2 separate regions of the Homo sapiens genome follow, and region 1 is linked to region 2. Evidence: fine-mapped expression QTL. Tissue or cell type: whole blood. Region 2 holds a variant in brackets; the other region holds the start of a gene. All regions are shown on one strand. Distances are between the middles of the regions. Region 1 holds the start of WDFY2 (WD repeat and FYVE domain containing 2). Region 2 has its middle 18 kb from the start of MIR4703.

Evidence for each region.
Region 1: WDFY2 starts here. The variant in region 2 is fine-mapped to the expression of WDFY2 in whole blood (TOPMed, PIP above 0.99). The same link has a PIP of 0.9 or more in blood mononuclear cells.

Annotation. Positions count from the first base shown.
Region 1 is chr13:51,582,442-51,586,837 of GRCh38, reverse strand. It overlaps WDFY2 (WD repeat and FYVE domain containing 2), which reads right to left and starts at 2,376. Exons shown (of 12, transcript NM_052950.4): 1 at 2,014-2,376. The coding sequence starts at 2,150. It also overlaps the pseudogene RNY1P6. RefSeq lists a silencer at 2,156-2,525 and enhancers at 2,666-2,945, 2,604-3,124.
Region 2 is chr13:51,532,764-51,537,159 of GRCh38, reverse strand. No RefSeq gene overlaps it. Among named protein-coding and RNA genes, the nearest start is that of MIR4703, 18 kb to the left of the region's middle. The variant T/C (reference allele first, on the strand shown) is at 2,644.

The DNA of each region.
Region 1 (4,396 bases), 50 kb before region 2:
TAATAATAATTCCAGACTTATGGGTGAACCTTATTTAACAGTAACTCCATGACAAAATAATTTCTATTATTTACATTGTACACTAGGAAAGTGAAAATTAGGCTAAGACATAGCTGAACATTGCATTTCTTTCATCCTATAATCAAATGAAATTTATTCTTCAGTTTCATTAATATACACTACTTCAGCGTCTCCAAACACTTGAAAATATACCCCAGTAAAGCTGTTTCCTTCAAGGTAAATGTGGTGAAATGGGAATCAGAAGTTTCAATACTATAATAACACCTTAATATTAAAGGAGCTTAGGATGGTCTGAAGGTAGTTTTATTATCTCAATTGTTCACAGTCAGTTACAGATTGAACTCCTTGTTCTACTCTCTTCCCCTTCTCACTACCGTACTTAACTAGTCTTAAAAAAATAAATAAAATATTAAAGCAGCTTAGGTTTAACTACCCTTCTCCTTTTCTTGATTCCATGAATTTGCTTATGAATTTTCCACAGCAGTTAGAAATTGATCAGTTCCATCTCCAGTAGTTACAGACTGGGAAAGTGACATCTACCAATATATTCCTTCAATATATTTTATGGAATATATCCCATAAAAACAATACTGTGCCAAAGAATTTCTAGGTCCAGAAGCAGTCTTTTTAATAAAATTTTGCCTTTATGGAAAAAATCAAACTTTCTCATAAGGCTTCTCTGTGAATTTCAAAAGGGTCCTACATCCATGTACTCCATTTCAGCCATGAATTTCTTCTGTTCATTGCAGAATGCTTGCCACTGGTGTATGTTTACAATGTTTTCCATTGGATCTGCACAGGAAATTAATCAGGCGCCATTTGTATTGAGCATGATGTAGACAAGAACATGTCATTAATATACTCATCCTAGTTATACTGAAGAACCTAAGACATGAACAAACCTATCGAGCTCAATTGTTGAGGCCACACACTATGCTAAGTGCGGAAATGACTATAAAGACAGCAATGAGCACTTTGTTGCTCAGCCTCTCAATTTTGAGTCACCAAGAAAGGATACTTTACCTCTGCATGATTTGAACTTATATTAAGAAAACCTACTTACTGTAAAATCCCCGTGTTATGTACCTCTACAGTGTTCTTTTGTAAGAATGCTTATATAGATTTTACCAAAGAAACAATTTCAGATAAATTATCATAATACTATCTTCAAGCAACATTACTCTAGAAATTAGCTTCATCAGCTTTATTCCTGCATATTCAAGGAAATTCAGTTAAAGCGAAAACGCAAAACAGAGAGAGTATTTGAAGGCAGAACAACTAGTTCCACTTCTGCATATTAAGCAAAATTAAGCAAAAATAAAGGAAACAGGCAAAGGGAAGGAACTCAAGAGCTATTTGCAGCAGTGATCCGTTACAAGTTCTACGCGCTTCTCCTCGAGCTCCAAGAGATAAGGAGGGGAAAGGAAAGAAGGCACCACGCAGAAGCCTAAACTTACTCTTGGTACAACTTAGAATATTCACTGAATTCAGCCTAAGATGTCTGGGTTATCTGGATTCAGTAGGAATGTCTGGGAAGAAGGAGTGGCATTTGCTTTCTCCGTTTGAAACCCTGGGAGCTGTACGAGAGTACCCCAAACCCCTTGGTTATCTTGCAGAGGCGGCTCAGGGCATCGTTCCCCAAGCACACACCTGCAAAGCCGGGCGGCTCCTCCCCTCTTTCCCTCCTGTCCTCAGGGATGGACCAAAGTCCCTCCAGCGCACCGTTAGCCCGAGGGCCACCCGGCTCCCGCAGGCACTACCCAGCCCGGGGTGAAGCCGGAGCGCTCGCCGCCGTCCCGGCTCCGCTTCCCGGAGCCACACAGCGGAGGCGGCGCGCAGCTGAACACCGGCACCACCAGGATGCGCATTACAATAAAACTTGGGGGAGCAAGTCTACACTCGCGCCGACGTGAAGGCACAGCCCCTGACGCGGGCTCGAGGGCCGTCGGCCCGTCCCGCCCCTCCTCGCGGCCGAATGGCAGTAGTCCATACCTGTCCTCGGAGACGCTGATGACGCCCTCCTCTTTGGGCACGATCACGGCCATATTCACCACCTCCTGGGACCCCTCCATCCGCTGCAGCAGGATCGGCTTGCGGGTCAGAGGCTTGGGCTGGATCTCCGCCGCCATCGGAGGAGGGGGCGCGCCTGGGGCGCCGCCGCCAACCGCGCCGCGGGGCCGGGCTGAGGAGACTGCTGGAGCACGGACACAGGTTGAGACAGAGACTCTGGCTGGCCGGAGCGGAACGCCGGAAACCGGCGAGCATAGCCTGGCCGCCTCTCTCGGGAACGACTCCGCGCTCCCTGCTTCAGGCACCAAAACCGCCACGACCTGGGATGCAAGCCGGCGCCACTACAAGAGGAGGGGGCGGAGCGCCGGGGGGCGGAGCCTGTGTGGGCGGGGCCTGCCGCAGGGGGTAGCCGCTGGTGGGCGCGAGGGCGGCTCCACTTCCGGGAGGGTGGTGAAGGAGGAGGGGAAACCTGGAGCAGGAGGCGGGGATCTGGTATCCCAATGCGCGTGCGTCAGTCCCGCAAGCCCATTTTCACCCCTCCCCTCCGCGACTCCCCGGGCGCTGCAGCACCACTAGGACGCATGCGCTTTCCGTTCCTCGCGGTCTTCTCTCTGCCTTACACACCCAAGGGTTAGGCTCCTCCCTCTTTAACCTCCCGTGAACGCGCGTATACACACCCCTGGGGACGCGCTTGCCAGACGCCACGCCCCTTCGAAATTCCCTGAAAAGAGGGCGGAGGTGGGGCGGGGAAAGGAGCGCCTCAGCAAGACCGGAAAGAGAAGAGGCCTGCAGGAAGGAAAGCCGCCCAACTCGTTGGGACGTGACTTGGCATGCGCGCGGGCTACCTGGCCTAGCGGTCTTAACAATGAAGCGCGGCGGGAGGCCGCTTACTGCTCCCAACATGCACCAGGCCCAGGCTGCCGGAGGGAACCCAGTGGCCTCCTGGGAGTCGTAGTTTCTTGGAGCCTCCGCCCCCTTGTCCTGGAATGACCTATCGCCCACTTTCTGCGCTATGGGCCTGAGGAGCTCAGCGGCCTCCAGGGCCATTGGCCAAGTCAGGACCCAGACTTGCCTCTATGGGAACTGAGGGGCAGCCCCCAGCTGAGTAGGACGTCACCACTCCTAGGGTCAGACTGATGCTCGGAATAGTGGCACGGAAGGGACATGAAAAGGAGAGAATCTTTCATACAGACATCTTCAAGGGAGCTCAGAGAACATATGGGGTGTCTATCCCCTCGTTTTCTTAGATGGCTAAATTACACAGCCAAGGTTACTTTAGTGCAAAGTTAGGGCTAAACAACCCCTCCTTCCCTCCAGACTTGAACCCAGGCCCCTAGTGCTGGCTTCTTTCCATTTCCCCAGCAATCCAGCCTTTTTAGCTTGCTCCAGACACAACGGACAGAGTTACTGTAGTTACTGACTGAATGTTAGGTGCCTACCAGAAGGCCTGGCATGTGGGGTTGATCGTGAAGACTAAGCTCTGCTTTTTTATCTTGCCCAAATTCCTATCTAAGGGGTCTGGGGAGTCATGGCCTACAAAAACCATAAATTCTCATCAGATGGGTTTTGACCATGTAGGTCATGACTTACTTTCCAGTCTGACTCTGGCGTAACAAGGAAGAAAATCAAAATGTTTTACCCCAAATTATATTTCCTTGCCATGCCTTAAAATTGCCCTGCAAAGTCTCTTGTGGGAAAAATCCACATTCTATATCCCCTTTCCCCTTTGTTTTCCTTCCTTCCTTCCTACACCCAGGAGATAACCAACTAAGAGCCAGGCACCGTTTTAGGTCTGGTAAGGAACATTTTACAACCTGCTGTCTCTAAAGGCTGCTATCTAAAAGATTCCTCTGCACAATAAAACCTGGTCTCCACAATCCTTTACCTTAACCTGAACATTCCTTTCCGTTGATCCCAGGTCTTCAGATAAACTCAACCAATTGTCAACCAAAAAACGTTTAAATTTACCTATAGCCTTGAAGCCCCCGCTTTAAGTGGTCCCACTTTTCTGAACCAAACCAATGTATTTCTTAAATGTATTTGATTGATGTCTCATGCCTTCTTAAGATATATAAAACTCAGCTGTACCCCGACCACCTTGGGCACATGTTCTCAGGACCTCCTAAGGGCTATGTCACGGGCCACGGTCACTCATATTTGGCTCAGAATAAATCTCTTAAAATATTTTACAAAGTTTAATTCTTTTCATCAATAGTCGTTATGTGATAACCTCCACTGAACAATCCCAGAATTAAGTTAGCCGAAGAGTAGTAATGGTCTAGGTGGTGTGATTGAGTTGCAGGGCTCTGAAAGTGAGAGAAATAATGCCAAAGCTGGGAAAAGAAAGGGACAGGCCTTGTGGAAA
Region 2 (4,396 bases):
TCACCACTTAAGAATACTGATACAGTATTATTTGATTCTGAAATATCTGATTCCAGATGAATTTAACCAACCATCTATGAGACCATTCGCCATATTCCAAATGGAAATGAGATATTGAGTGGTTTTACCTCTGCACCTACGAACCTTTCAGAGAAAAGAAAGGAGCTGAAAGCTGTGGAATTAAACTCAGAATATGATGACTTACAGTAGTATCTTGTTTTGTCAAAGGGATATTTGGATTTTTGTGGGAAAATCTATTTTGTATTGCCAGACACACTAGTAATCGAATCCAAGTTACTGAATTTTTTGGCTTTTTTTTTTTTTTTTAATAGATGGGGGTTTCACCATGTTGCCCAGGCTGGTCTTGAACTCCTGGCCTCAAGTGATCCTCCCACCTTGGTCTCCCAAAGCGTTGAGATTACAGGCATGAGCTGCCATGCCCGGCCATCAAGTCATTGAATTTTGATTACACATTCTTTTCCATTGATAATAGTTATGATTTTTAGAAGAGCAATCAAGATCGAGTGCTTGTTGTGAAACATCATAGACTTTCAGAGATGTAAGTTACTTTGGGGATCTAGTCCAACCTTTAGTTCTAAATGAAGCTGAGAGAGGTAACTTAACATGGTGGCCAGAGCAAGACAAAACCAGGGCCTCCAAATTCTATTATATAAGTATTTAAGGCCACTGTGGCTGGGTCTCTCCCAGAAACCAGACTCTGACAGAGATTTGCTTGCAAGAAACACAATGGGGAGTGCCCTTGGAGTAAATACCTATAGGGGAGTGAAGGATTTAGGGTTGGGCAGAGGAAGGAGTTGAGCTGATCAAGTGATTCCCCATGTGCTCAGAGCTGGAACGACCCCTCTGAGTTACCCTGCCTTAAGGCAAGGGCCTGGGGCCTCTATGCCCTGTCCCTAACCGACCAGTCATTGATACAGGCTGCTTTCATGGGGGCAGCATGACCTTGGGCAAGGTGGCAGTCTTTCACTGAGGGCAATTCTGGGAGAAGGACTTCACTGAAGGTGCTCAGTCACCATCACTCCCAGCAGCTGGAGAAGTGAGCACCACAGTCCTTCAGAAGGCTCCGCAGCTTCTGCTATAATGCCAAAGAAGAGATTGGTAATGATGTCTTCATACACGATTTCTCCCACTAGTTAACAAGACCCTCATCAACAGATCCCCATTTTATACTGGGCTCAAAAGAAGTATAAAATATATCATATTGCTAAGATGCTATTAGGAACTCAATAATATTTTTGACAGATAAAAATAAAATAAATTAATCGAAACATTAACTGTGGTTTGAAGACAGCAACCTTTTTTTTTTTTTGAGATGGAGTCTCACTCTGTTGCCCAGGCTGAAGTGCAGTGGCATGGTCTCAGCTCACTGCAACCTCTGAGCCCAGGTTCAAGTGATTCTCGTGCCTCCTTCTCGTGCCTCAGCCTCCCGAGTAGCCAGGACTACAGGCGTGAGCCACCACGCCCAGCTACTTTTTTTGTATTTTTAGTAGAGACAGGGTTTCGCCATGTTGGCCAGGCTGGTCTTGAACTCCTGACCTCTGGTGATCCACCCGCGGTTGGCCTCCCAAAGTGCTGGGATTACAGGCATGGGCCACCGTGCCTGGCCTGAAGATGGTAATTTTTATAAAGACATTTCCCCTCTTACTTTTATAAAGACATTTCCCCTCTTAATTAAAGCTATAATTTGAAATTAGAAATATGATTCATCATGTTACATTAAAATCTGAATATTAGAAAGCCTCTTTGCTTTTTGATTGGCTTTTAACCCACACCATTGTGTGTGTGGGGTGAGGGGGATTAGAAACCAACATATTATTTTAAGATGAAAGAACATGAGGGTAAGCCCAAAGATACAACTTTCATGAAAGGCTTCCCTGTTGTCCTAATTAATTGCACAGAATCCTACGAGGGAAAACCCCTGCTAACTTCTAAGTTAGCTTGATATTCTTTTTTTCATTTGTATCACCAAGGGGTACAAAGTGAATAAATCAATATCCCTGGAACATACATTTAAAAATGCTAAACTTTTTATCTCCCTAACAGTTTCTTGTTTCATTAAGAAATTGGATTAAAGAAAAATCTTCACATTTAAAGCAGGATGAAGACTTGAAGTCTGAAGGATACAACACTAAAATATAAGACATGGTATGTCACATGAAAAATGTGGGTTTGTATTGAATAGCTCAGGTGTTTTCATTCCATCTGGAAGATCATTTGTGCCAAAGGAATATTTAATGTACTTATATACTACTGTCTGTGTGCACAAAATAATTTTGGTCTAAGGAAAAGACATCCCTGTTTTAACCAGTGCTCCAAACAAGAAGCAACCTTCAAGAATAACAGTAACAACAGAAGAACTAAAACATCACAAATTGCATTGAGAACTATAATGAATGGCTTTTTGTGTCACTAAAGCAGCCCCTTGGCAGGCCCAGCTGCAGCTGTTAACATTTCGGGAGCATTCAAATTGGGCAGATGTGCCAAAGTGCGGCCATGCCCCCTTTCCAGGGTGTAGGACATCATGTTTCAGTCATGGGCCTAAAGGAGTGGCCTCAGGAAACCTCACCCAGGAAGTGGCTGCGGCTGTCTCAGGGTTAGTGGTGTAAAGCAAGAGGCTGTCTC[T/C]GGTATTCCCTGACTTCTCAAAATGCCAAATAATCAACTAGTTGAAGCTTCAGCTGAGCTTTACCTTTTAAGAATATCATGTACAATAAAATAATATTGATTTGGATATAATCATTCAGAGCTCAAAATAATTTTCATGGAAGTTTATAATTTTTTGCTTTTGTGAATAGTTTGCTAAATAATTTATGATGCAAAGAAAAGGTGGTGACTTCCTGTGGGTCGGAGAGGGCGTGGTGACCTACAGGGAGCTTTGCTAGGATTCCAGAACCAGTGTGTGCTATAGCAATGAGAAACAGGGCAAATATCCTCACCTCTTCCCCCTAAACTACCATACTTCATTCATGTAATGAAGTCACAGTCCACATTTTCCAGCTTCCGTTTTCTTTGAATGAGACATTAGTGTATCAACTGAGCTGCCTTCACTCTAGTCCCCAATATCTTTCCTTTATCAGGAGTGTGTCAACATGAAAACAGAACTATTCATGATTTGTTTTCCTGTAGACAAAGTCACCAGGTGATTATTTTGTCTACAAGTTATTATGTTATTATGTAGATGAATAAGTGCATATTTAGGCCAACAAAACAAAAAAAAAAGCCCTTTAAAAACTTTTAGAAAAGAATTCTGCAACAGAACTGTTTGCTTGGGTTTGCCTACTCCAGAAATGTAGACCTGGACTCAAATAGATATTGCTCACCTTAGCCAGGTATATATAATAATAATACAGGCTTGGCACAGTGGCTCATATCTATAATCCCAGCACTTTGGGAGGCTGAGGGAGGTGGATTGCTTGAGCCCAGGAGTTTGAGACCAGCCCAGGCAACATGGTGAAACCCTGTCTCTACAAAAGATACAAAAATTAGCTGGGCATGGCAGCATGCATCTGTGATCCCAGCTACTTGGGAGGCTGATGTGGGAGGATTGCTTGAACCTGGGAGGCAGAGGTTGCAGTGAGCCAAGATGGCACCACTGCACTCCAGACTGGGTGACAGAGCGAGACTCTGTCTCAAAAACTAAAATAACAACAATAATAAATAATACCAGAAGAGTTTATTTACTTGGAAGTTTATAAAAACCACAAAACATTCGTTGACAATGAAGTTACTCTCTAGAATTAGAACTGTATTTCATAGAAATATGCAATTTTCTTTGCATTATTTTTCCCCCAAACAAATTTAAAGGTTTCTGATATTCTCCATATCTTTCTAGTGAGATCTCTCAGAACAGTTTTGAAAGAACTGAAAACCTTCCAGCAGTGTTTTTTAGTGGGTGAGGGGAGAGGAATTTCAATCAGTAACATCTTAAACAGCTCTCAAATTGTCCTTGGACCAGACCACGGGACTCCACAGTAAGTTCCCCTCTCTGCATACCACAGTCTCAGGAATCTTTCTGATCTTCACTTCCATTGTAATCTAATTCTTGTGCCCTTGCAATTTGATACCTCAGACTGCACCTTCCTCCCCAAGTTCACTACTGCCTGAGCCAGAGACTGTGTTTCCCTTTTTCTGATATCCCACTGCTAAAGGCCATGCTCCCACACCCAGTTCTCAGTCTCTGTACCCTAACTCAAGTCAGCTGGATTCTCCAGTTGCAACAACGGCATTCTCTGAACTTGTGGGTTAATGCCCAGCATTTTGTGTGATCTTTGGTAGTGGAAAGTGATGATTCACACATCTCATGGTCCTCTGGTCTGGAAAGTTCTTAACCACTGTCTATGTAGCATTGAACCCTGGCAAATTCTGAGAAATGGGTTTT